Linked DNA regions of Homo sapiens. The protein of the gene in region 3 purifies or fractionates together with the protein of the main gene of each other region. This does not show direct contact. Each region holds a gene or a part of one and is shown on either strand. Other genes may lie near its edges.

What was found.
Region 1: the proteins of VAPA (region 3) and STK4 purify together in Homo sapiens (affinity purification with mass spectrometry; 4 studies listed by BioGRID and IntAct, with this or other methods). This does not show direct contact.
Region 2: the proteins of VAPA (region 3) and PRKACA purify together in Homo sapiens (affinity purification with mass spectrometry; 4 studies listed by BioGRID and IntAct, with this or other methods). This does not show direct contact.
Region 4: the proteins of VAPA (region 3) and ACBD5 purify together in Homo sapiens (co-immunoprecipitation; 5 studies listed by BioGRID and IntAct, with this or other methods). This does not show direct contact.
Region 5: the proteins of VAPA (region 3) and TACC1 purify together in Homo sapiens (co-immunoprecipitation; 5 studies listed by BioGRID and IntAct, with this or other methods). This does not show direct contact.
Region 6: the proteins of VAPA (region 3) and PITPNM1 purify together in Homo sapiens (co-immunoprecipitation; 5 studies listed by BioGRID and IntAct, with this or other methods). This does not show direct contact.
Region 7: the proteins of VAPA (region 3) and MIGA2 purify together in Homo sapiens (co-immunoprecipitation; 4 studies listed by BioGRID and IntAct, with this or other methods). This does not show direct contact.

What each region holds. Positions count from the first base shown.
Region 1 is NC_000020.11:44,965,269-44,969,311, reverse strand, and holds the start of STK4 (serine/threonine-protein kinase 4), read right to left. Parts: upstream 2,801-4,043; 5' UTR 2,744-2,800; coding exon 2,709-2,743; exon of another isoform or gene 1-2,708. UniProt on the Homo sapiens protein: Stress-activated, pro-apoptotic kinase which, following caspase-cleavage, enters the nucleus and induces chromatin condensation followed by internucleosomal DNA fragmentation.
Region 2 is NC_000019.10:14,114,963-14,118,902, forward strand, and holds the start of PRKACA (cAMP-dependent protein kinase catalytic subunit alpha), read right to left. Parts: upstream 2,801-3,940; 5' UTR 2,586-2,800; coding exon 2,540-2,585; intron 1-2,539.
Region 3 is NC_000018.10:9,955,516-9,959,015, reverse strand, and holds part of VAPA (vesicle-associated membrane protein-associated protein A), read right to left. Parts: 3' UTR 1-3,500. UniProt on the Homo sapiens protein: Endoplasmic reticulum (ER)-anchored protein that mediates the formation of contact sites between the ER and endosomes via interaction with FFAT motif-containing proteins such as STARD3 or WDR44.
Region 4 is NC_000010.11:27,237,998-27,241,965, forward strand, and holds the start of ACBD5 (acyl-CoA-binding domain-containing protein 5), read right to left. Parts: upstream 2,801-3,968; 5' UTR 2,723-2,800; coding exon of another isoform or gene 2,692-2,722; coding exon 2,677-2,691; exon of another isoform or gene 2,497-2,676; coding exon of another isoform or gene 2,488-2,496; coding exon 2,322-2,487; intron 1-2,321. UniProt on the Homo sapiens protein: Acyl-CoA binding protein which acts as the peroxisome receptor for pexophagy but is dispensable for aggrephagy and nonselective autophagy. Binds medium- and long-chain acyl-CoA esters.
Region 5 is NC_000008.11:38,825,236-38,828,735, reverse strand, and holds part of TACC1 (transforming acidic coiled-coil-containing protein 1), read right to left. Parts: intron 3,429-3,500; coding exon 3,368-3,428; intron 1,569-3,367; coding exon 1,361-1,568; coding exon of another isoform or gene 1,308-1,360; exon of another isoform or gene 166-1,307; intron 1-165. UniProt on the Homo sapiens protein: Involved in transcription regulation induced by nuclear receptors, including in T3 thyroid hormone and all-trans retinoic acid pathways. Might promote the nuclear localization of the receptors.
Region 6 is NC_000011.10:67,495,364-67,498,863, forward strand, and holds part of PITPNM1 (membrane-associated phosphatidylinositol transfer protein 1), read right to left. Parts: intron 3,484-3,500; coding exon 3,233-3,483; intron 2,960-3,232; coding exon 2,770-2,959; intron 2,662-2,769; coding exon 2,554-2,661; intron 2,317-2,553; coding exon 2,159-2,316; intron 2,074-2,158; coding exon 1,868-2,073; intron 1,749-1,867; coding exon of another isoform or gene 1,697-1,748; intron 986-1,696; coding exon 815-985; intron 240-814; coding exon 75-239; intron 1-74. UniProt on the Homo sapiens protein: Catalyzes the transfer of phosphatidylinositol (PI) between membranes. Binds PI, phosphatidylcholine (PC) and phosphatidic acid (PA) with the binding affinity order of PI > PA > PC. Regulates RHOA activity, and plays a role in cytoskeleton remodeling.
Region 7 is NC_000009.12:129,039,626-129,043,125, reverse strand, and holds part of MIGA2 (mitoguardin 2), read right to left. Parts: intron 2,675-3,500; coding exon of another isoform or gene 2,532-2,674; coding exon 2,436-2,531; intron 823-2,435; coding exon 612-822; intron 1-611. UniProt on the Homo sapiens protein: Regulator of mitochondrial fusion: acts by forming homo- and heterodimers at the mitochondrial outer membrane and facilitating the formation of PLD6/MitoPLD dimers. May act by regulating phospholipid metabolism via PLD6/MitoPLD.

The DNA.
Region 1 (4,043 bases), on a different chromosome or scaffold from region 3:
GTAACTATTTCTTTTTCCACACAGAATTTGATATGGATTACAACAACTATACATGATAAATGGACAAAATCTTACATAATAAAACTGTGTCCCCAGCTTACCCCAATTCATATGCTGAAGTCCTAATACCCACCACCTAAGAATGTGACTGTATTTGGAGACAAGGCCTTTAAAGAGGTAATTAAGATAAAATGAGGTCATATGGGCATGCCCTAATCCAGTATGACTGGTGTCCTTATAAGAGGAGATTAGGACACTGACAGGTACAGAAGGAAGAACATGGAGACACAGGGAGATGGCCATCTACGAGTCAAGCAAAGGCGTCAAAAGAAACAACTCTGACAATGCCTTGATTTCAGATCTCTAGCCTTCAGAACAGTGAGAGAATAAATTTACGTTGCTTAAACCACCCACTCCATGACACTTTGTCTTGTCCTGATAAACTGATACACGTGATAATAAAATTGATCTGCTTCAAATTAGGCAATCTACTAGTTACAATGAGCTGGGAATCACCAGCCACTTCAGAACCCAGTCCTGCAATGCTCTTCTCTTGTGCTTTTAATACATTTTTTAAAATCCAAAAGGTACAGGAATGAGCATGCCAAGAAACTTTAGTCCTTTGCTCAAGATTATGTAAGACAAGGCAAAGGGGGAAACAAAACTCAGATTCCTAATCCTCTTTTCAATTAAACCAAGGCCTCGGAGAAAGAAACCAAGAAGAACGAACGAACATAGTTCAGAAAGAAACATAACTAGTGTGCATTCATAATTGGATCACTATGGTACTATAGTAAATATCTGCTAACATACACAGAGACCTGTGAAACAGGGGTACTTTTAGAGAGGCATCAGAGTGAGGCAGTTAAGAGCATGGCCGGGCCCGGTGGCTCACGCCTGTAATCCCACCACTTTGAGAAGCCAAGGTGGGCGGATCACGAGGTCAGGAGATAGAGACCATCCTGGCTAACACGGTGAAACCCCGTCTCTACTAAAACTACAAAAAATTAGCCAGGCGTGGTGGCACGCACCTGTGGTCCCAGTTACACAGGAGGCTGAGGCAGGAGAATCGCTTGAACCCAGAAGGCGGAAGTAGCAGTGAGCCGAGATTGCGCCACTGCACTTCAGACTGGGCGACAGAGTGAGACTCCGTCTCAAAAAAAAAAAAAGAACATGGACTTTGGACCAGACCCCATAGACATTAAAATCCTAGCTCTGTCTCTTACTTGCTATGACTTCTCCCAGCAAATCACTACCCTCTGTATCTCAGTTTTATCATCTGTAAAACAGACATATAGGGATATCTACCACACAGGATTGTTGTGAGGTTCAAATGAGTTCAAATGAGGTTTTTATGGTTCAAAAATGGTCAAATATCAGCAATTTCATATGCTTCAGCAGGACACATGGAAAGCACTTAGAACAGTGCCTGGCACCCGGTAAGTGCAATATGAGTGTAATAATCATTACTATTACAGTCTCAGCACACTACGCTAGGGTGAATCCAAAGCCCATCCCAACCACCTATTTGCCTTCTGCAATGTTTGTGCACCTCAAACATCCCCAAGCTCAAACAACCCCTAAGAGTGCTGCCCAGGCAGTCAATCCCTTCTCTTCACCTCTTGGTTGCCCTGCACTTCCACACCCTGAACACTTCCTTCTTTAGAGCTCATTCTGCTGCAGGAAGTCAGACGTCTCTGTGAAATAGAAGTAACCACACTGAACCTCAGAGAAGCATGACTCCTTCGGTCTCTAGTCCCTACTTTTCTCCAGATGTGGTAGAGTGGCAAAAGACCCGGGATGTCCACAAGGGAAATCCAGGAGTTGAGATTTTCTAGGATCAGCCACCATCCTGATCTTGAACTAAAGCAATTCCAGGTACCACTAGGATTTGGTGCTGATATTCACAAAACAACTGAGGCCTGAAAAGGGCACAGACTGGCAGGGTTCAGTGACCCGGAGTAAAGAAGGAAACACTTCCCAACTACTCTGGACCTCAGTCTCCCCATCTCGAAAATATCCTCTTATTTCCTTACCTACCTCCCAATGTCAGGTTCTGAAGAGCTGAGGAGGATGTGAAGACCATTAGGAAGACACTGAACATCAGTAATAAAAGATGCCATCCTACAGTGGGGACACCACCAACAGCATCCTCTGAAATGCTACCCTCCACCATCCCCTCCCTTGCTAGACCCTCAACCTTTCCTCGCATGCTTTCAGCCTTAGGCGCAAAGCTTTTCCCCTCCACAGATCCCCCCACCGCACCCCTCAAGTGGGACTTCAGACCCTTAGAAAGTCCACCCGGCCTTCCTCTTGGCCAGTTCTCGATCCACCCCCTTAAAGAGATCCCTCACAGATTCTCACCCTGCTTCAGCATTCGCCCCCACCTCCGTGAGTCCCTGCTTGGATAGCGTTCCCCCGAGTGGCCCGGCCTCAGCAGGTACTCTCCCTAACTTGTCCCCACGTTCCTCAGCACAGTCTCACCACAGCGAGTGCTCCCTCTAACCGGTCCCAAGTCTAACCTCCTTAGCAGATGCTCCCCTCAGCCGGACCCTCACCCACCAGACGTCCCCCCCCTCACTCAGCAGGTGCCCCATCGGCTGGGTCGCTTAGCTCCGGGGACTCCCACACAGGTGTATCCCCTCAACCAGTTCCCGCCTTTTCTTCCCCTGACCCCATGCCCGTCCTCTTAGCCAGTGGCCCCTCACCGGCGCGGCGGGTTCCTCAGCTGTACCGTCTCCATGGCGCTGCCAGCAGCCGCCCAGACCCGCTCACTGCTCCATCCTCCCGCGGACCTCCTGAGCCCGCCCCGCAGACCCTCCCACACTTCCGCTTTCCGCCCCTACCGGAAGCGGCGCGCGGCGCGGGAGCGGGGCGGAGCCACGGCCCTGATCACGTGGTTCGGGCGTGAGTCTTGTGGCGCGGTGGGGCGCGGACCCGGAACCGCCAAGTGGTGAAGGCGCCTCCAGGCGGTGCCCGCTGGTCTCTAGAGTGTCAGTGGCGCTGTCTTCCTGCGTTACCGGAGCGCACAAAATACTCGGTCCCCAGGCCGAGAACGCACCTCTACCTGGGTCCTGGGTCCCATTTCACAGACTGAGATGCGTGAAGCGCCTCCTTTAGAAGAGCTGACAATTCTTAGCAAACCAAGTTTTGCGTGATTTTGGGGAGGCGGCGCTGCCCCAGGAACGCCTGGAGGTATTTGTGGTTTTCTGCCGCTTACCTGGTTGAACTCTGGTCCCAACGGGCCCCCTGCACATTTTCTCCTACAATGCATCAACGCGCAAATTGCCCCACTGTCTTTCTTAAAGGCCTCCCCTTTAAGTCAGTTTGCAGACATAAAAATAAGCAACATTAATTAAGCATTTGCCGTGTACTTGTCTTCATATATTATCTCATTTAATCCCCTGTGTCAAGCCGATAAGGTCATCCCCGTTTTTATTTATTTAATGATTTAACACAGTCCCTAAACGTTTTCAGTGCTTTACCTCATTTAATACTCCTAACAACCTAGACGGTATTATTATTATTCCTACTTCATAAGGCCAGAGAGGTGAAGTATCTAGCCCAAGGTCACATAGCTTAGAGTATAGGTTTGGGGATTTAAATCCAGTTTGGTCTGATTTCAGGGCCTGCACCACCAAACTGGACAGCCATGGGTGTGTAACCTCTTTTTGGGCCTGAGAAACAGACCTTTCTCTCCACTCAGAGCTCCGGCTTCAGCTATTGTGCTTCCGAATGCCACTACCATCAGTAAGTATTAGGAAAATGGCAGATTCTACCCAATTGACCCATGGGGAAAGTTATAGGAGAAAACTTAACCAGAGCAACCTCTCACTGTTTTTAATTGCCTTGCTTTTCCCAAGGATATGCCATCTACAGAACTTAACACCTGAGCACCCACCCTTCAGGGCCACCCATGGGCCCAAAACGGGATAAAGGAGCCATTCCCTGACATAGGAGGAAAACATTTGCTGAGAAGCTACTGTGTGCCAGACACAATCTTGGACTTTCACTTAATCCTCAAAACAGCCCTAGGAAGAAGT
Region 2 (3,940 bases), on a different chromosome or scaffold from region 3:
TGCCCCCTGCAGGCTGGCCTGGCTACTGCCCCTGCCCCTGCCCCACCCTTCTAAGAGGGCAAATTTTGTCTAACTCCATCCTCTCAGAATCAGAGCGCCTCAAAGCAAAGAGGGACTTCCTTCCTCATCTTATTTCCTTCTCTGGGAGCCTCTGGGAGGAAGTACAGCTTCGGGCGTTTCTCAACGTGTGACATAGTCCCATTGGCAGAACATGACATGATTTTCGGGATGTTTCATTTATCTAGTTACACTGTATTTAATGCGTATCAGAGAAAATATAACTGGCATGGCAATCCCATGATTTCATTTATATTATTGTTTAGAATGAGCTCCAAGTTTACATCTGAACACAAGTGAGTAAAACTTTTATTATTTTAAATTAAGAAAATATGATAGAGTAAAAATCTGGGAGGCTGCTGAAAAATGTCAAAGTCGGGGAATTCTGGGGTCCAAGAAGTTTGCTGGTAGATGGATCTGGATGTGAATCCTGCCTCTGTGACATCATCTATGTCATGGATGTCATTTCTACCAGAGGGCTCCTTTGGAAAATTTGGATAACAGCCCGTTATGAAAGTCACCAGAGTAGGTATCTCTATCCGCCTGGCCATTTAGCCTGTGGCACAGCCTAGATGCCCAATAAATAGTAGCTCTATTTTACCATGATCATTCATTCCTGGGTGTCTGACCTGTGCTCTGAGAGAATCAGTGGTTCCTTCCAGAGCCTCTGATCTTTTTCTTGGGATCCTTTTTCTTGTGTGGCTTTCCACCCCCCACCACATGTGTCTGATAGCCTTGAAGGTTTTCCAGGACTGTCATCTCCCCAACTTTCAACTGAGCTACCGCAATATATAGCTGCCTGCCTCTACCTTCCACCTCCCAGCTGGCCTCACCTGCTGGGGGCCTGACTCCTCCCCCCCCGGCCAAGTCCCCTCCAAGCTCATGCCCAGACCTTTTTTGGACACTACCCACCTGCTCCTCTGTCATCAGGCACTCAGCTACAGGCATTTCCCTCCCCAGCCCCCACCCATTGGTGACATGTCAGGCCTCTTCATGATCGCTCTGTGACTCTGAGTTCTGCTATTTGAATCCGTATGGGAATAAAGTTCCCTGGCTTTCATACCTTTCTGGGAGGGGGCATTCAGGAAACTCAGATGCTGGGGTTTGAGACCAAAAACTGGCCTTCCTTTTCGACCAATAGTTCCGACTATTTCTGGGTAAGTGGACAGGGGATCCCAGCTGCCTTCCAGCTTTCAGACTGGAGTGACAACAATTTAAGAGCTGTAAAAATTGGGAATGGGGTTCAAGACCATTTCTGATGGTATTTCCAGATAGAGAATCTCTTTCTCTGGCTGGCTGGAAAAGACCAACCTAATGTGTGGGCAAGTGGGTGAAACAGGTCTCTCTCTGGCTGAGCCCTGGGAATGATCAGAATCACTAGACGTCAAAGCAAATCACTAGACGTCACCCATTACTCTCTTTGACTGCCTCCTCCTCCCCAGTGCTCTTTCTGACCATCTCAGTTAGAACCGAATGAACCTCGCTAAACCCAGACACTTTTCATCCCAAGCCAGGAGTGGTGGAAGAAGCCCCAGGGACTGGGTGAATGACGGAGCCTCAGTTGTGAAACGACCATTTATTGAGGGGCCCTCCATGGAGCCTAGAGCTCACTGCAAGACAGGAAATGAGAGGGGGCTCTGCCACCACCCCCTTACCCCAACGCAGGAAAGAGGATGCAATGAATCCCAACAAGACCAGCTCAAACTTGGCTTTGGAAGCACTGAAGCAATTCTCTACGTTCATAAACAGTCTGCTACCCCAGCCAGGGACAGACGCTTGCTTGGAGGACGGAGCACAAGCAGAGCAGCAGAATGACAGAGTGACAGGATGAGAGAGGCAGAGGGACCCAGAAAGATCCTGTCCCCCATGCCAAGTGACACAGAAGAAAAAAATAATGCTGGAGGTGGCTCTGGGAAATGTTCAGGGGGCAGGATGGGTTTGGAAGGGGGGGCTGTGCTAAGGTGAAGAGGGAAAGGGCAGGAGAAAGATGGCGGGGGCTGGAGGGGGGAGGGGTGTGGTCAGCAAGTGGCCAAGGTCCCTGCGCGGTGGAGGCAGACAGACCTCATCGCATTCCCAAACTGGTAGAAACCTGGGTCGGGGTCAGGCAGAGGATCCCATAGGTGAGAGAGGTGAGTGAGGAAGTGGGGGGATTAGAATCTGGGAAGAGGGGCCAGGAAAGGAGGGGGTAGGCTGGTGACAGGGGCCCATGTGGGGCCCCAGCGGTCATACGTGCCATGGTTGGCAGTGACAGCTGGGGGGGAGCACGGTCTTTGCAGCATGGGGCGGCCCTAGGGGAAGGGGACCCCTACAGGGGGTACTCTGCGGGCCCGCGGGCCCCAGCCTTGGACAGGCCGGGGCAAGGGGCGCTGGGGGGTAGGCAGAGAGGATGAGGGGCCCCGTAGGGGGAGGGGCCAGGCGATGATGGACAAGGCCAGGGCTGGCAGCGCAGGGCCAAGATCGGGGTCACAGCCCGGGCACTCACCGCTCTCCTGCTCGCTGCCCTTCTTGGCGGCGGCGGCGTTGCCCATCGCGGCGGCGGCGGCCGGGGCCGGTCCCGGAGCTGCGGCGCGGCGGGTGCTGGCTGCGGCCGGCGGCCCCGGAGCGCGCTGGGCGGCGGCGGCGGCGGCCCTCGGGCTGGCTGCGCTAGCTGCGGCGCCGCGACCCCCGCCCAGCCCCTGCTTCCCGCGTCTCTCCGCGCCCGCCCGCCCGGGAACCTCAGCCCAAGATCTCTGCCGCTGTCTGTGACGCCCCCGCAGCCCGCCGCTCATTGGCCTAGGCCGCCCTGACTGACGGCTCAGCGCCGCCTCCCATTGGCCCTCCCGCGACCTTCCCGCGCCACTATAGGCTCTCAGCCTCGGGACACGCACCGCGGACTCTCGGCCATTCACTCGCTCGCGAGGCCGCAGCTGGGCGGGCAGACGCGTCCGATTGGCCGAGACGCTGGACTGGGCCCGGGGTCCGCCCTGCGAGGCCGCCGATTGGCGGAGGTGCCGGGTCCGCCAAGCCCCCCAGCAGAACGCTCAGTGTCAATCCGGGGGTGAGAGGGCGGGGCGGAGACGCAGTCTGCGGGCCCGGGCCGGCGGGGCGGGGCGGCGGAGGCTGGCTGGCGGCCGCGCAGCGCTCCGAGGCTCAGGAGGCGGCCCCGGCGGGCGCCCGGCCGGCCCCGCGCGCGCCGCAGTCCCCCGCCCCCGCTCAGTGCGGCAGCGGCTGTCGGCCAGCCGGAGTTGGCGCCGCGGCCTGCCCGGCGCAGCCGCTGTCCACCTGCCAGCGGGGGAGGGGCGCGGCCGGCGCGCGGGTCAGAGGTCGCCCGGCCGCCGCCGGCGTCATTCATAAGGCCTGGCGCTGGGCGGCCGAGGCCAGGCCTGCTTGGGGGCCAGGCCGCGGGGCCTCCTGGGTTTTCCCAGCCGCACTCAGGAGGATGCCGGGCCCGGCGCAAGGGGTGGCTGGGAAGGGGCGCTCAGTGTCCACCCCTTTGCTGGGCCCTAGCCCTGGGCTCCTGCCAGTAGTAAGAGCTGGCACCCACTTAACGCTCCTTCGCACCACACTCCCATCGCGTAGGTGCTACCATCATCACTCCCATTGCACAGATGAGGAATCTGGGGTACAGCCAGGCAGATTCCCTGCTCCTGTTCCCCGTCTGTATTTCCTGTCTGGGCAATGCGAAGGGAACCTGCCCCTTCCTTCAGGATCCTCTTTCAGTACACACTTAGCAGAGGACAGTCGGGGTTTCCCAACTGCGACACTACTGACGGTGAGGCTGGATCATTTTCTGCTGGGGGGTGTCTTGTGCACCACTGGGTGTTGAGCAACATCCCCCGCCTCTACCCACTGGATGCCAGTAGCCCCTCCTCTATCTTCCTGCTGGCTGTGGCAACCGCTGTCT
Region 3 (3,500 bases):
CTAAGTAATAAGCATGTTGAAAACGACATTATACTTGAAAACCACCTTTTGCTTTGAGAAATACATGATGGACAAAATAAATTTCTCAGGTAGGTAGGTACACTGGGTGTCAGCAAAATGGCAATTAATACTGAAGCCCACATTTCTCAAATCGCCTTTTTGCGATGACAGCTCATTTATTCACAAGTCAAAAATCTTTAGTGGTATTCCAGCAATCCTAACTTGACAAGCAAAGCTTTTATGCAATTTTTTTTAAGCAATACCTAACAGTGACTCCTGCAGTTTAAAGAAAAATAAGTATTTTAAGTTCCCCTGTATTGCTGAAGTCAAGTCTTAATTAAATCTACTTCATATCTGCCTTTGGCATTTAAAAACCTACATAAAGCAACTGTCTGGCCGATGATTGGAGCTTGAAAAAAACTACCATGCCAGATCTCCACCCCAGACCAATTAGGTCAGTATCTCTGGGGGTGCTATTCAAGCAACAATTATCTTTTATGTTCCTAAGCTCATCATGAGTTAAGGTACTGCTATAGTTGAATATCACTACTACAAAAGTTATCTGAATAACTTCCTATATACTCTCTTTCAAGATGGGTGTTATACATAGCAACAACTGGAAAACAAGAAACTGAGTTTTAAAACAAGAAATGTGGCAACAGGAGGATATGCATAACTAGAAGGGAATTGTCAAGAGGCCAGGCCAATCAAATGTTACATTATAAAATGTCCATAACCTTAAGAAAGTTAACTATAAAAACAAAGCAAAATGCTTTTAGTCACATTTATACTTGGTTTTCAATAAACCACAGAAATTAAGCTGGAAAAAAATAGGATACAACTTATAATTAGTGATTATGCTTAAAGAACATTAATATTACAGGGAAATGAATGAAATGTTCCTAGCAATTGATGCTGCTGAAAGGCAGAATTTGGAATTTTTTATATTTTCCAAAAATTGCCTGAAGTGCACACACTGTGTCAGAAGGGCAAGACAAACTTTCTTTTTCCTTAGTGATATATGTTTATACTTCTTTGCACCAACCCACGAGCGGCTGGGCATTCATTCCCAAGATGCCACTGCTTACGCGAAGAAGCGTGGTGGTAGTCTACCAAAAGTGGGGCTATGAAACGTGGCATGAAAATCAGCTGTTCTCACTTCCTACTAAAAAATAGTTAACTCCATCTCACTAAGCAAGAGACTATCTGCCATCAGAATTCAAGTCCCAGTGATTAGCTATTAATGCTTAACAGGATATAAATGCACAAACCACACAATCTGTTGAAATTTTTTTTGTATTGTGAAAAGGAAAAGGACACTTCACATTTTTAAAGTTTATTCATGAATGGTTTAATTTCCCTTTAAAGCTAGAAAATAAAGATCATTTACCTTCTGATCTTCGTTTTTCCAAATGGTAATAAGCATTGATCCTTCCCTCGAATAAAGGTGAAATTTTTAAAATCTCAGTGAATAGGAATGTGCAAAGCTCTAAGAAAACTATTACTTGAATGTCTCTAAAGTGGTAGAAGATCACAAGTTGGGAATACCCTCAAAAACTATATTTTTACCCTACTGTTAAAACTTGTTTTCAAAGTGGTGTAATCTGAAAGATTACAGTTCAAAAGTAATTCCCATACCAAATAATATCAACTTTAGGTGAACATCTAAGTATTTAAGAGTATTATTTTTCTTGGCTGGGTGCGGCAGCTCACACCTGTAATCCCAGCACTTTGGGAGGCCGAGGCAGGCGGATTCAGGAGTTTGAGCCCAGCCTGACCAACATGGTGAAACCTTGTCTCTACTAAAAATACAAAAATTAGCCGGGCTTGTTGGCTCACACCTGTAATCCCAGCTACTCAGGCGGCTGAGCCATGAGAATCACTTGAACCCAGGAGGCGGAAGCTGCAGTGAGGTGAGATCACACCACTGCCCTCCAGCCTGGGCAACAAAGCAAGACTCTGTCTCAAAAAAAAAAAGAAAGAATTACTTTTCTTTGATCGGAATTTCTGAATTTCATACATTTTTCTTCCAAGTGTCATTTTTTTTTAAGGGAACATACCACACACTCAGAACATAATGACTTAGCTTCTTGTAAATATAAGAATGGGGGAAGTTAAGGTACATTAGTTATAGAACGAAGGAAGCTAGTGCATTCAGTGTCACATATGAACTCAAGGCCTTAGTTACTTGATTGTAATTTCAGTATTAGCAACAGTGTATTTCCCTCATGCTTACATATACAAGTAAGCAGGCAGACAAAGCAAAAACTTCTAAACATATAAGGAATGAAGACAAACAATTTAATCTCTATATTATCATATTATCAGTCAATTAATACAGTTGGACTTTCAAACTATAACTGTTGGTAGTAAAATAATCTGATCACATTTCATACAGCAATTAAAAATAACAGAAACAGAGTCTCACCTATACAATCAGAGCATCTCCTGATATGAACAACAGTTAAGCCCACATACATTTTAAAGATGCTACCCAGACTACAATCTATCTCAAAAGCAACCATGGCATAATGCATTTTATAAAATGCCTACCTAAAAATACATTGTATTTTGTAATGTTTATTACCAATGTGGGAGGCATTTCTAGCCTAAACACTATAACCAAACTATTCAACAGTAAGCCGGTAGTAGTCTTACAATAAGAAATTTCACATATACTTGTTATTATAAATAGCATTTTATGTTCATTATTTCAGCCATCTCTCAAACTAAGACAATTTTCAACAGTTACCAGAAGACACTGAGCTAGAGTCAACAGACCAGATATCTAGTTCCAGCTCTGCCTCTACCTACCTGTGAGACACGGGGAAAGTTCTCTTAACCTTCGTAAGGCCTCAGATTTCTCAACCATAGAACAAAGGGGCTGAACAAAATGAATTCTAAAGAGCATTCCCATAAAACGGGATTTGGCTAAATTTTCAAGAACTTAATTTCTTTAAAAAAAGATAGCTATGAGATACCAAACTTGGTATTTACCACCAATAATATTGATTATATAAGAGCTTTAAGCCAAGGAATTACTGATTCTGCATTTATGGGGTGAAAATATAAGACTATTTTTAGCATGCTTTTCCAGTTACCAGAAAAGGGGAGAGGGGGATTTTTACAAAGACAGTAAAGCATACAGCAATGGCAGTAAAGCATGCAGCATAGCATGCTAGTAATGGATAGGCATTACTTGTGTTTCCTTTTAGGAACTTTTGCACACAAGCAAGAGGTTTTATAAAAGATACCACAGCGCCCAATAACACAATATATGTGTGATCTGACAAATTCAAAACACAGTTGAAATGAAAAGGCAACCAAAATACTTCAGAGTACTTCATTCTTCTATAAAATGTGTACACAGACCTGGGCCTAAAATACTTCACTGCACCACATCCAGTTCTAAAATCCAATTTCCTTTTCAGGTAGAGCGCATCTTTTAAAAAAAGAGCCAACACACCTATGTTTAAGAATAAAAATTCACTTGTACTAGA
Region 4 (3,968 bases), on a different chromosome or scaffold from region 3:
GGCTGGGGTGTGATCTAGGCTCACTGCAAGCTCCGCCTCCCGGGTTCACGCCATTCTCCTGCCTCAGCCTCCCGAGTAGGTGGGACTACAGGCGCCCACGACCACGCCTGGCTAATTTTTTGTATTTTTAGTAGAGACGGGGTTTCACCGTATTAGCCAGGATGGTCTCAATCTCCTGACCTTGTGATCCGCCAGCCCCGTGATCAGCCCGCCTCAGCATCAGCCTGCCTCGGCCTCCCACAGTGCTGGGATTACAGGCGTGAGCCACCGCACCCGGCCGATAGGGTATGTTAACTTTGCAATACTTTCTTAAATGTTATGTACATACAAACTGTACTTTATACAGGTTTCCTAATAAGTGGTACATAATGTCAACAGGCATAGTGGCCTAGAGACATCAGTCTAGCTTTACCAATTTTCAAAAAACTATAAAAACGTGTGCTTTAGAAGAAAGTATAAACATACTACTTACATAAAACTCTTAGAATCATACCTTTCTATAAACACTAATAATTAGGGACTTAAAAAATCAATACCTAAATAAGTTCATGCTTTTTTTTATATTTTATTTGTTCTTTCTTATCTTTCAGTCCCCCATATGCCCTCCTCCAATAGAATGTTTGAAATTACAAAAGGTTCAGACAACACCATAGAAGGAAAGAAATTACAAATGGAACACTATTTTGTGTATATTTGTTTTTAAAAATTTCTGAATCTGCATTTAATGAATTTTTATTGAATGATGTGTTGAATATTTGTTACCTATAATTATTGAAATTATTGATAATTAATGATAATTAATGAAAACAGAAATCATGATATTAAATACTATAGTAACATATTATTGTTGTATTCAGTTAGTTTTACAACTGTGGCACAGTAGTAGCACCTATAATTACTTTCTAAATATGTTTATTGGGCCGGGCGCGGTGGCTCATGCCTGTAATCCCAGCACTTTGGGTGGCCCAGGAGGGCAGATCACCTGAGGTCGGGAGTTCAATACCAGCCTGACCAACATGGAGAAACCCCGTCTCTACTAAAAATACAAAATTAGCCGGGCATGGTGACGCACGGGTGTAATCCCAGCTGCTGGGTAAGCTGAGGCAGAAGAATCGCTTGAACCTGGGAGGTGGGGGTTGAGGTGAGCTGAGATTGTACCATTGCACTTCAGCCTGGGCAACAAGAGCGGAACTCCATCTCTAAAGAAATAAATATGTTTATTGTGAAATATAATTCATATAATGTAGAAAGATATGAATTGAAAAGTACGTCTTGCTTCTAAGACTCTGCATTTAGAACAGAGAAAAATATTTAATGGCCAAAAACTTCACATTGGTCTATGACATAAAATTACAAATTCAAAAAGCTCTGCAAATCGTGAACAGGGTTAATATGAAGAAAAACCACATCTACTAGTCAAATTGCTGAAAACCGAAGATAGAAAAGAAATCTAAAAAGCAGCCAGAGAAATAGCACATTAAATACAAGAAGGAGATCAGCCACTGGAATGACTTTTTTCTCACCAGCTGCAAAGAAGGTCCAATATGAGTATAAAAAAGAACATTATACAATGGAATAGCAAATAAAAAGGTAGAAAATATATATTTATTAAAATAGAAATTACTTCACAATTGACTATAGTTATTCTTTCTTTTCTGTCCCTTCATATCAAAAGTTTTCAAAACGCTTAAGCTGGTAGACCCTATGAGTGTGTGGCATTAGGCATCCCCAGCCTAGATTTTTGTTTGTTTGTTTGTTTGTTTGTTTGAGATGGAGTCTGGCTCTGTCGCCCAGGCTGGAGTGCAGTGGCACGATATCGGGTCACTGCAACCTCTGCCTCCCGGGTTCAAGCAATTTCCCTGTCTCAGCCTCCCGAGTAGCTGGGACTACAGGCGCACGCCACGAAGCCTGGCTAATTTTCGTATTTTTTAGTAGAGACGGGGTTTCACCATATTGGTCAGGCTGGTCTTGAACTCCTGACCTCAGGTGATCCATCCACCTCGGCCTCCCAAAGTGTTGGGATTACAGGCTTGAGCCACCGCGCCCGGCCCGGATTTATTTTTTAACACACCCAAATCCGCAGTCATTAAGTGACAAGACTTTTGTTTTCAACAATATGAAGTACTTAAAATCTGGATATTAGATTTTTCTCCGGTTTGGAAGATCAAAAGGTAATTAATTCATATTCAATAGCTCCCCTTCCACTACATGGCTCCTACACAGAAAAAAAGGCTAAATAAACAACACTAGAACCAGAAAGTGAAAGGGGGCTTTGGGGCTCTCTGCAGGAGGCGTCTACAGCCGGGGCCCAGCGCACGTACCATTCTTCGGCAAACTCTGGATCACCTTCACGGCCGCCTCAAACCTAGTCTCGTGCACGGATCTCGTGTCCGCCATCTCCAGCTGCCAGTGTTGGCCCCGGTCCCAAGGTCTGTCGGCGGGAATCAGGCAGCAGCAGCACCAGCTTTCCCAAGAGCCTGCATGAAACTGGAACATGGAGCGCAGCCGCGGATCAACATGCCCCAAAAGGAGGAGGCCCGGGAGCGAAGCGGGTCAGTTCCCCTTTGCCCTGCCCTATCCAGGCCACACAGATCGAAGCGGCCCGGCTCCTTCCTCCTCCCCCGGGGCGTGACTAAGGCCACGAATCCGGCCCGCGACGACAGCAAAACAACTCACCGAGAGGAAGAGCATGTCTAGCAGAAGACAGAGGGGGTCCGGGCATCGGTGGCCGCGGAGCCGCTCTCCCACCCTGGGGACCCTGGCGGAGCAGCCACACCCCCCATTCCGCCGGAGTCCGTCTGTCAGTCCGTGCCCTCCCCACAGCCCCGCCCCAGAGTCACCGGAGGACCCACTGGCGCCGCCGCCGCCGCAGCAGCAGTGCAGCAAACCCCACCCACCCGACCCGCCGCCGCGGCAAGGACGCGCGCGGTCCGTCTGTCCCCAGAGGAGGGTCCGGGAAGCGGGGAAAGGGGGCCACAGTCCCGGCTTGGTGCGGGGAGCACACTGTGCGCGCTTTTGTTCAGAAGGGGGAAACCGAGGCCGGACCGATGTGTCCGCTCTGGCAGCCGGGTGGACGAAGTGCGCGCTGGGGATGCGCGGTTGGGTTCTGCACCTGGGCCCAAAGCTGCACGCGACGGCACCGCTGGGCAACAAAAATGACTCTGCGGTCCCCAGCGCCTGCACTCTCCTAAGTTAAGGTTTGAGGAAGTTAAATGGGGCCTAAGCAAAGGGCTTTAAGTCGGGACAGGTTCTGTGAGAAACTCCAGTTCTGCCATTTAAATTATGTGACCTAGGGCAAGTCACTTAGCCTTTCCAGTGGCAATCGTGACACCCACTCTAAAGGGTAGATGGAGAAAAGCATTGGGGACCTTGGATGGAGGTGCTCAGCAGTCCCTGGCCCGCAGGTCTTCGACAGTTTTCGCTGCCCTGAGCCAAGAACGTCCGAGGAGCAGCCGAAGGAGAGAGGAGGTCGCCGGCTCCTAAACTGGGCTGGGACGGAGGGCAACTTCCCCTACACTACCCTTTCCACCCAGCCCCAGGGAGCCAGGCACCTCCAGCGGGATTTAATAGGAGACTGGGCATGGGGACGGCCGGGCACAGTGGCTCACGCCTGTAATCTCGATACTTTGAGAGGTCGAGTGGGGAGGATTGCTTGAGGCCAGGAGTTCAAGACGAGCCTGGCAACATGGCGATACCCTGGCTCTATTTAAGAAACCAATAATTAAAAAAAAAAATAAAAATAGGATACTGGGCGTAGAGGGCGGGGCCAATGAGGAGTCTTTACGGGTCGTCAACCCTAGAAAGGGGGTGCCCTGGGCCTTCAACTTACTAGCGCAACCCCCTGCGTCCTTAGGCATTTGGGAAGTGCCCCAGGCCGAACGTTGGTGGTGGGACTGACTAGGTTGTGGGGGGTGGAGTCCTGTAGCCCGGAAATCCCAAAGTCTCCCGGATGGAAGAGTCGTTTTTGT
Region 5 (3,500 bases), on a different chromosome or scaffold from region 3:
GGTCTCTCGGCCCCTCTCCTGCCCCCTTTCCTGAAGCAGGCCATAAAGCAACCCCTCAGACCTTCCCCTGAAAATAGTTCATAAGACCTCATTACAAGAGGGGTCCTCCCTGTACACAGAGAAAAACAATGTCCTTATCCTGAAAGACACAGACACCAAGAGGAATTGGAACAAACAGGACTTGCTAAGTTCCCCTGGTTTATTACCACAGATCACACCCTTCTGTCCTCCAATTATACTTCTGCACAACTATCTATAAAAGTACAGTTTTCCCTGTTCCTTTGGGTCTTCATTTCTGGAGGCTCTAATGTCATGTAAAACTTATATTAAATATATTTGTACACTTTTCTCTTGTTGATCTTTTGTTAGAGATGTCTCAGCCATGAACCTTGTGGTGAGGAAAAAGATACCACTTTTCTGTCCTACCCTAGCCAAGTGACTTTAATCAAGTCACTTAACTTCTTTGACTTACTTTGTTTCTCTGAAGAAGTGAGAAAAGGGTAACACCTTGCTATGAATGAGTATATGCAAAGCACTTAAAACAATGCCTGTACATGGTAAGGCACCATACATGTCAGTTGTTATTTCTCTAAGTTAAACAATGAGTATAACAATCACAAAAAAGTCAAACATATGACATATTTATAGGCCATTTGATATAGTTTAAATATTTGCCCCCTAAATCTCATGTTGAAACCTGATCAACAGTTGGAAGTGAGGCCTAATGGGAGGTGGCTGGGTCATAGGAGCGGATCCCTCATGAATAGCTTGGTGCCCTCCTTGTGGTAATGAGCGACTTCTTGCTGTTAGTTTCTGTGAAATCTTTGTTAAAAATAGCCTGGCATCCTCCCCGCCCCCTCTTCCTCCCACCTCTCGCCATGTGACACACTTGCTCCCCCTTGCCTTCCACCATGATTGGAAGCTTCCTGAGTCCCTCACCAGAAGCAGGCACTGGTGCCATGCTTATTCTACAGTCTGCAGAACCATGAACCAAATAAACCTCTTTTTCCTATAAATTAGCCATTCTCAGGTATTCCTTTACAGCAACGCAAATGAACTAACACACCACTATACTTTAAGATATGGCCATATTCACATAAAATTATAAAGAAATTCAAGCAGTCTCACATACATCAGCATCTCCTATACAACTTGTCACAAGTATCTCTACGTTCCTAGTACTTCAATAAGCACTTTGTGTCCCTTTTCCAGGTAAAGAAGCAAAGCATAGGTCAGCATCCTAAATCTATCCTTCAAGTGACCCAATTCTTTAATCTCTGTAAGGCTCCTCCTGCTTTATTAGGCTTTCAGGCATTTCCATGCTTATGTACATTAGAAAGATGAAGATATGCTTCCATACCTGCTTCTGAGGATGAAAACGCATGATTTATGGTAGACACAGGAACATTGGAACATTCAAAGTACTCCAGGTCTTCCTCTGGCTCACCTTTCACCTCGGCACCAGCTGATTTCTGACCACATGACGTGGATGCCAGTTTCTCCTCATCAGTAGCATGGCCATCCCTATTAGAAATGTCTGAAATCTGGGAGATCACTGCCCCTTCATCCTGAGAAACACAACAGAGAAGATGCTACCCTTTAGGAGGGCAAGCAATGGGGAAAAGTGACATCCCATGAATGGAACAAAGTAGACACAACTCCATACAGATATGTGAGAGGTTAACCACAGACCTGGGTACAAAGCAAGGAGGAAGTTGGAGTCTTTCAATTGTGAGATGCTGTTTTATAGAACCTAGTTTCTGTAACTTGAGTCTGAGGTTTTAAAAAATGATCTTCTCTAGGTTAAGTTTATAAGCAAGCAGTTTCAGTGGTTTAAGACAATGGTTTTCAATTTTTTTGCTCATATACCTAATTTTTTTTTGAAAATCTATGTCCCCCATTGCATTTTCAAGTGACATCTAAAAACTTTTTGGCATAAGTTTAAATAATTGCAAAGAATGTAATATCTGGAATATTCTAAATATTGAATTTACTTAATGCTATCTAGTTACCTTAGTGATTTGATACCATATGTAAATTTAAATGAACAAGTTCCTGAATAAGTCAGAAATTTATGTTATTCCTTTTCCTCTCTAAATCTGTATTTCCATCCCACTTCCATCAAGAAACTATCCAAATGAAAAACATCTGCATGGTTGAAAGTCTTTTTAAAAGTCTCTATCCAATGTCTCTGTGAAACTTTTTTCTTTAAGTCTTAAAATTTTTTCTGCTGGAGACTTATCACATTTATTAATGCACAACTTATTTTCAAAATATTGCAAGTTTTGATAAGTATTATCAGACACAAAAGTAAGTTGTTATATCAATTACAAAATGTTTTATTGCACTAATTCTTAAAAACTTTTACAGTGCACTAAATATATGGGTTTTGGGTTTTTGTTTTTGTTTTTTAAAGAAAACCAAAGATAAATTTCTCATAGTTCTTGCTGCCTACTTTAGCAAAATCTGAGGGAGAATGTTACACATTTGTTAACAGATGAAAAATAACTCAGATTGTAAATTTCCCCCATCACACCCCTTTTTTACATCTTACACCATATACCAAGTTTCTGATCCAAATTGTAGAGGAAAAGTTATGTTAAATTGAACTCTATTAACCAATGAATGTATTTCTGTAATAAGTATACTGAGAAAGTTTTAAAAAGAACAAAAGGATCTCATTGCAATCAGATGGGCCTGGGCTTCGCTTTGTTTTGCAATTAGTTTATACGGTCATGGATGGATATTATTTATTGCTAGAATGTAACAAAGGTCAACATCAATTTTATTCCTGGTTTCTATTTTTATCAATATAATCATTAAGAAACCTTATTTATATAAACAATAGATGAAACAGAAAGTAGTTCTGTAACATAAGTGCCTTTCAATTCTTTGAACCCCTTTCCAAGTTATGTGCCCAAAAAAATCTACCATCAAACATTATTTTTAGACCTATCAGCTGACAACTCAGGTTTTCCTCTATTGTTGAAAGCAATGAATTAGAAAACCATCTGACTTAAGAAAAATACCATCCAGTTATTAGAGTCAATTATCTTATTAGAACCTACACCAGTATTTCAGATCTTCCCTTCGGTGCCCTGGAGACTTTCACACCCTGTGGTGATGCATCTTTGTAGCATTTAAAGTGGGAATTTTACCAAAAAAAAAAAAGAGTCATTGTGAAAGGGTTCCCTTGTCTTCAGGGGCCTTCTCTTCAGGGACAGTAAGGATCTGGAAATTGGCTTCTTAAAGCTGAGTACTCAGGTACCCATTGGAAAGTCCTTTTGAACCACCCGCCAGGGGGATGCAAACTCCCACTGGAGGACCCCTGGTCTCAGAGACATTCTGGAGATGGGCACAGACTCACCCGAGAACATGCATCCAGGGCGAGAGACTGAGTTTCATGCTTCTTCACCTTACAGCCACTCCTGGAAAGAGAAGAAACACAAACAAGCCAGTTTGCAATCACACTGACAATTGTCAAGGTATGAAATGGAGCA
Region 6 (3,500 bases), on a different chromosome or scaffold from region 3:
CTCAGCTGGGCTTCGGAGGTGGAATACGGGCCTCCCCCACCCCCAGGCTGGACTGCCTAGGCTGGCTGACTTACTCTTAACCACCTCACTGGTGGTGCTGGGGGCGGCTGGCTGGGCCGGGGGGTCAGTGGCCAACTCACTGCCCTTCCAGAAGGCACCGCTAGTAGAGGTGGGTGTTGAGGGCACCAGCATCTCCAGCTCCTCCAGAAAGAGGCTGGAGTGCGTCTGCAGAGTGTCGGCTGGGGGAAGGAGGGCAAGGTCAGCAGGGGCCGGCCAGGTGGCTCTCCTGTCTTCTCACCCAGGGCTCCCCGCACCTCTGCCATCTTCCTGTGGCCCCTCTGGTCAGGTCCTGGCTGAGGCTGCACTGTGGCATTCTCTCCTCTCAGCCCAGTGGCCAGCTGCACTCCTGCCAGAATGCCTGTTGCCACCGCCCCAAACGCTGCACACCTGTGCCCAACACAGGCCCGCTTGGCCCATACATACCTGGGCATGCCCCGCAATAAATGTCTGCAGCACACCCCACACAGATGCAGCAGCGCACACATGCTGGCTGCTTGTATGGCAGCACACCAGCATCATGCTGCCAGGGGGCACCCTCTCTAGCTTGGCTAACCACCCCCACCCAACTTCTAGGCCCAGGAGGTCAGAGGGTCCTGGGGATCCAGACCCCCCCAGGGGGAAGGAGCGCCTGGTCCTGGGAGTGGTGGCCTGAGAGGTTTTCCATCGTCTGGGAGCCTCCTCATGTCTTCTGCTACCTCCTCCCTTCCTGTGTGTGCCCTCCTCCTTCTCCCCTTTATCTTGTTTGGGGGCGTACCCAGCAGCAGGGATGAGCCATCTCCCAGGGGGAACTTCTGGTAGCGGGGCACGGTCAGTGGGGCGATGGCCTGGAACTTCGGGGCCAGCAGGGGCTCGAGGCGTGAGGCGCAGGGGTCAGCCGCGTGGAAGAGGTTGTAGATCTGTTCACAGGCTGGGCGCATCTGGGCTGCTGGTACCCAGAAGACAGAGAAAGATTGTGGGGTCAGGGTTTCAGCTGGGCACTCTGGGAGGTAGGGGGTGTGGGAGCAGCACCCTGATGTCTGGTGTGACCCCGAGCCAGCACTTCCCAAACTGCACTCCCTGGGAAGTCAGTAGGGCCCTGCTTAAAGTGAGACAGGGGCTGGGCACCGTGGCTCATGCCTGGAATCCCAGTACTGCGGGAGGCAGAAGCAGATGGATCACTTGAGGTCAGGAGTTCGAGACCAGTCTGGCCAACATGGTGAAACCCCGTCTCCATTAAAAATACAAAAATTAGCTGGGTTCAGTGGCTCATTCCTGGAATCCCAGCACTGTGGGAGGCAGAGGTGGGTGGATTACCTGAGGTCAGGAGTTCGAGACCAGCCTGGCCAACATGGCAAAACCCTGTCTCTACTAAAAAAAATACAAAAATTAGCTGGGCATGGTGGCAGGTGCCTGTAATCCCAGTTACTTGGGATGCTGAGGTAGGAGAATCACTTGAACCCAGGAGGTTGCAGTGAGCAAGATCAGGCCACTGACACTCTAGTCTGGGTGACAGAGCGAGACTCTGTCTCAAAAAAAAAAAAAAAGGCTGAGAAGAGGGCAGCGGCTTCGATTTGCTGCTGTGGTGTCTGATTGACCCCTTCTAGTGCAGAACATCCCACGGGTGTGAAGCTCCTCCCAGTGGCTTTGGGAGACTCACCCTTGGCGAGTCCCTTCTTTCTGGGCCTCAGGTTCCCCTTCTGTAGCCAGGCCTTTGAATTAGTACAGTGGGGAAGTTGCTCATGCCTCGGATGAGAGGGAAGGCCAGAGGAGGTGGGGAAGGAAGGGGCAGACAGAGACTAGAGGCGCCCCCGCAGCCCCTAGGACTCACCCTCCAGGGCGGGCATCACAGTTTTGCGCAGAGCCAGCACCAGGCCCAGTGGGGAGCCGAAGAGGAAGAAGCCAGAGACCTTGAAGTCAAGGCGGGCAGTGCTGCTGGGGCCGTCAGGTGCCTCGGAACTGGCAGCGGGTGGGCAGAAGGCCGTGCTTGCCCGCCGGGGCTCCCAGGAGGAGGTGGTTGCGGGGGCTGCCTGAAGGCTGTGGGGGAGGAGGGGTGCTCAGTGCTGCTGCCTCTGTAGTCCATCATGTGCCCAGGGTAGGGGTGATGGGGCAGGGACGTCACCTGTTCTGAGAGCCCTCGGGCTCAGGACTGGCCATGTCGCTGGGGATGCGCTGGGGAGGCAAGGCCGAGGGTTCTGGGCTGCCCCGACCCAGGCCTTCCACACCATCTGCCAGGGGGTCCCGCACTGGGCCAAACTCCGGAGAGAGCAGCTCATTGTTCTGGATGGAACAGGAGACAGAAACATTCTTAGGCCTGGGGACCATTCGAATTCTACTTACTTAGAAGTGAGGAGCGAGGCTTGGGGGTTGGGCAGAGCAGAATTCCAGAGAAGACATGAACTGGCAGGGCAGCAGGGGGCCTGCCTGCTGGCAGAGGGGTGGCATTCCAGGGGGCAGAGACCTAGAGCCAGAGAGGGCCTTTCCGCTCCTGAGGAGGCCGGGTTTGGCTATACTGACCATGCTCCCACGGCGGCTGCTGCCCCGACTCCCGGTGCCCGCGTTAGCACTGTGGCAGAGTGCATCAAAGCCCAGGATGCCACCAACACCATCTCCAATCAGTGCGACCTGGGTGGGAGCAGGGGCACCATCAGGAGAGGCCTTGTCCTCACCCAGGCCAGACTACAGTGGGGGCTGCAGTGGAGGGCAGCAGATGGACTGTCCCTAACCGCTGACCTGCCCACAGAAGCCGGCACCCTCAGGTGAGCGCAGGAAGGCTGAGTAGGCCTGGTTGGTGCGGGCAATGACGGTGGCCACGGCGCCCTGGTAGCGGGAGGATGAGGTGGCCAGCAGTGGCAGGGCAGCCAGTGGAATGTGGTCTTGGGAGCGAGACAGGCTGTCCCCATCGTGGCTGTAAGGGCTCAGGCTGTAGGAGGGGGAAATGTGCGTGGGTGAGGGGCTTCCAGACCCACTCCTGCCATCCAAGTCCCCTGGGCCTGCTGGCAGGCCCTGGCTCTGTGGGTCCTCTGTGGGGAGCGTTAGCCCCAAGAGGCAACTGAAATGGAGCCATTCTCCAGAACAGGTCCAGCCATGCCAGTGACCGACCCAGGTGTCTGGCTTCCTGACCCCTTCCCCGCTCCCTGCCCCGCTCCCTGGCCTGATCCTACGAGTTCCCTGCCCTTCCACCCGTGGCTAGTACTTGGAGACAAGGGCATAGGCGGCGGCGCAGATGGGTGGACAGGGCACCAGTCGCAGCGCCACGTGGCCCAAGGCCTCAGGGAAGTGGATGCGGGTGACGGCCTCGAAGGCGGAGCTCAGCGTCTGCACATCCGCCTGCTTGGAGTTGGCGTCTCCAGGGCCTGAGTCCAGGATGTTGCCGCTGTGCAGGATAAGGAAGAGGGCGTGGACTGCGCATGCCTCAGCCCCCAGCTCCCCGGCTCCATCCAGGCCCTGGGGGGAACAATGGG
Region 7 (3,500 bases), on a different chromosome or scaffold from region 3:
GCCTCCTGGGTTCACGCCATTCTCCTGCCTCAGCCTCCTGAGTAGCTGGGATTACAGGTGCCCGTCACCATGCCCGGCTAATTTTTTGTATTTTTAGTAGAGACGGGGTTTCACCGTGTTATTCAGGATGGCCTCGATCTCCTAACCTTGTGATCTGCCCGCCTCGGCTTCCCAAGGAGCTGGGATTACAGGCGTGAGCCACCGCGCCCGGCCTAAACCTCAATTTTTAAGAGAGAAGGGAATGGGAGGAATACTGCATCATTCAAGAACCACATGGCTCTTCCTGCTCCTCAGCCTGGGGAACATCCCTCTCTGGACCCAGGAGCCACATCCCCGACCCCCTCTGACCAAGGTGCTCCCAAAGGGTCCTCAGCTAATGAGAACAACCAAAACCACCTCCACCAATGGAGCATGCGCATCCAACCACATCACCCTCCAGTACAGTGACTGGAGGGAGGGACGCTACTGTCATCCCGCTCACAGATCAGGAGACCTTGGCTCTGAGACAGGAAGACACTGGCCCAATATCCCCAAGTAGAGAGTGACCCAGCTGGGATATGACCCCAGGATGTGACCTCAGGTCAGGCCTATGCCCACCACCTCACACCTACCTTTCTTCACTGAAGGGACCTTCCTGGCCAAGAGGATAGGGAGGGGCACCGTGCCCAGCTGCTCCCCTCCCATCTCGGGACCAACCTGCTTCTTCCTCCTCCGTCGCCTCTTCAGCTGGTGGGCAGCCAGGGCCAGGGCCACAGTCCCCAGGGCCGTGGCAAAGAGGACTTTCCGCAGGCCTGGCGTCAACCGTAGCTGGGAGAATGCAGACTGCAGGGAAGAGGAGACGCTGCCGGTTACACCTCCCTGGGGAAGGTCCAAGGCAGCAGGACCGCCCCAGAGCACCTCAGGGACGGGACACACACCGGCTCTCCGGCACATCTGCCGACCAGATGAGAGACTGAGAGGCAGCCACCCTAGACGGGGAAGTTGACCAGCCTCCCTGAAACACAGGCCACAAAAACATAAAGATGGCAAGATGCCAGTGCCGAGAAGGTGAGGTCTAGGGGCCAGCACCCTCAGTCATGAGCACACAAGCCGCAGTGAACAAGCACCAGCTGTGCCCGGCACTGCACTAGGACCTAGCCTGGGGTACCCATCTGAGTCCCTGTCATTTCCAGACGAGGAACCTGAGGTTCACCCACATGAAGACATATACTCAAGGTGACAGAGGCAGACATGAAACCCAGATCTGCTGACCCCCATTTCTCAGTGATGCCTCAAAGATGATGACACTCACTCACCTGCCACCCCATCTGAACAATTCCTACTGCTGCACCTCACCCTCTGCCCCCCAGGCCTGGGAGCCCCTCAGATGGGACTGTACCCCACAAGGCAGATCTTCGGTCAAGATCCCAGTCAGCCACAAACATGTGAGTTGTCAGGGAGGGCACTGACCCCTTTTACAGACTGAGTAACTGAGGTCAAGAGTTCATATAGGACCAGGTGCAGTGGCTCATGCCTATAAACCCAGCACTTTAGGAGGCCAAGGTAGGTGGATGGCTTGAGCCCAAGAGTTCAAGACCAGCCTGGGCAAAATGGCAAGGCCCTATTTCTATTACGAAAAACTTTTTTTTTTTTGAGACGGAGTCTTACCCTGTTGCCCAGGCTGGAGTGCAGTGGTGCGATCTCGACTCACTGCAACCTCCGCTTCCTGGGTTCAAGTGATCCTCCCGCCTCAGCCTCCCAAGTAGCTGGGATTACAGGCACCTGCCACCATGCCCAGCTAATTTTTTTTTTTTTGAGGCGGAGTCTCGCTCTGTCGCCCAGGCTGGAGTGTAGTGGCATGATCTCAGCTCATTGCAACCTCCGCCTCCTGGGTTCAAGCAATTCTGTCTCAGCCTCCCAAGTAGCTGGGACTACAGGTGCACACCACCATGCTTGGCTAATTTTTGTACTTTTGGTAGAGATAGCGTTTCACCATATTGGTCAGGCTGGTCTTGAACTCCTGACTTCAGGTGATCCACCTGCTTCAGCTTCCCAGAGTGCTGGGATTACAGGCATGAGCCACTGTGCCCAGCCTACCCGCCTAATTTTTGTATTTTTAGTAGAGACAGGGTTTCACCATGTTGGCCAGGCTGGTCTTGAACTCCTGACCTCAGGTGATCCGCCCGTCCCGGCCTCCCAAAGTGCTGGGATTACAGGCGTGAGCCATCGCACCCGGCCAATACAATTTTTTTAATTAATTAAAAAAAAAAGAGTTCGTATAGTCTCAGGCTAAAGAACAGGCCTGAAGCCTCAGACAACAAACCCAGTCCAAAGAGGAGACACCAGAGGTTTGGCAAAGCAAGAACGAGGGCTCAGCGTTCCTGGACACGGAGGAGCCCTTGGCTGAGCATGGAAGTGTTTCATAGACCAGAGGTACAACCCACCCTGATCCTTACCTGCCCAAACGTCGTGTACAGGAACACGGGGATCTCGGCCACCGTCATGGCCAGGGCCTGGATCATAGACGTGCCCTCGGCCCTCCGGAACGCCATGGCAGGGCCAATGCCCCAGGCAAAGTCCTCAGGGCCAAGAGCTTCCAAGGAGAACGTCTTCAACTGGTTGCCAGCTGGGTCCCAGGCACCATCCACGCCCCAGAAGGACAGGGACACACATACCAGAGGGCCCCTCCACAGAGCTAAGAGACAGATGACCAAGTCAGATAAGAGAACGTGCACACGGGAACATGCAGAAATGCACTCAAGAAGAGCGTCCATGGGGGAGGAGGCAGGAGCAAAGCTTGCCTCTGGAACCCCAGGCCTGGAATCAGGCCCCAGGCCTCTGCATCTGCCCGCCAGCAGGCAGCCCCACACCCACAGACCCTCTGCCTACCAGGGGCCCTGCGAGCGGAAACATCTCTGGCCAGCCAGCCCAGGAGAGGACCCAGAACCTGGGAGGTGGACAGGTCACTCTCAGACTTAGGGCTTTAAGCCACATTTTCTCTACCTTTTTCAACCCATGGACCATTTGCTAAGCAAAAATCTTAGACCCCAGACTGAGAATCATTGCATCTTTTTACCTCCCACAAAGTTAAGAATGTTTTCTTGCTGGGCACGGTGGCTCACGCCTGTAATCCCAGCACTTTGGAAGGCCGAGATGGGTGGATCACCTGAGGTCGGGAGTTTGAGACCAGCCTGGCCAATATGGTGAAACCCCATCTCTACTAAAAAACACAAAAATCAGCTGGGTGTGGTGGCACGCACCTGTAATCCCAGCTACTCAAGAGGCTGAAGCAGGAGAACCGGCTTGAACCTGGGAGGTGGAGGTGGCAGTGAGCCAAGATGGGGCCACTGCGCTCCAGCCTGGGCAAGAAGAGCAAAACTCAGTCTCAAACAAACAAACAAACAAACAAACAAACAAAAAACTAGCTGGGCGTGGTGGTGCACACCTGTAACCCCAGCTACTCAGGAGGCTGAGGCAGAAGAATCGCTTGAACCCGGGAAGCAGAGGTTGCAGTGAGCTGA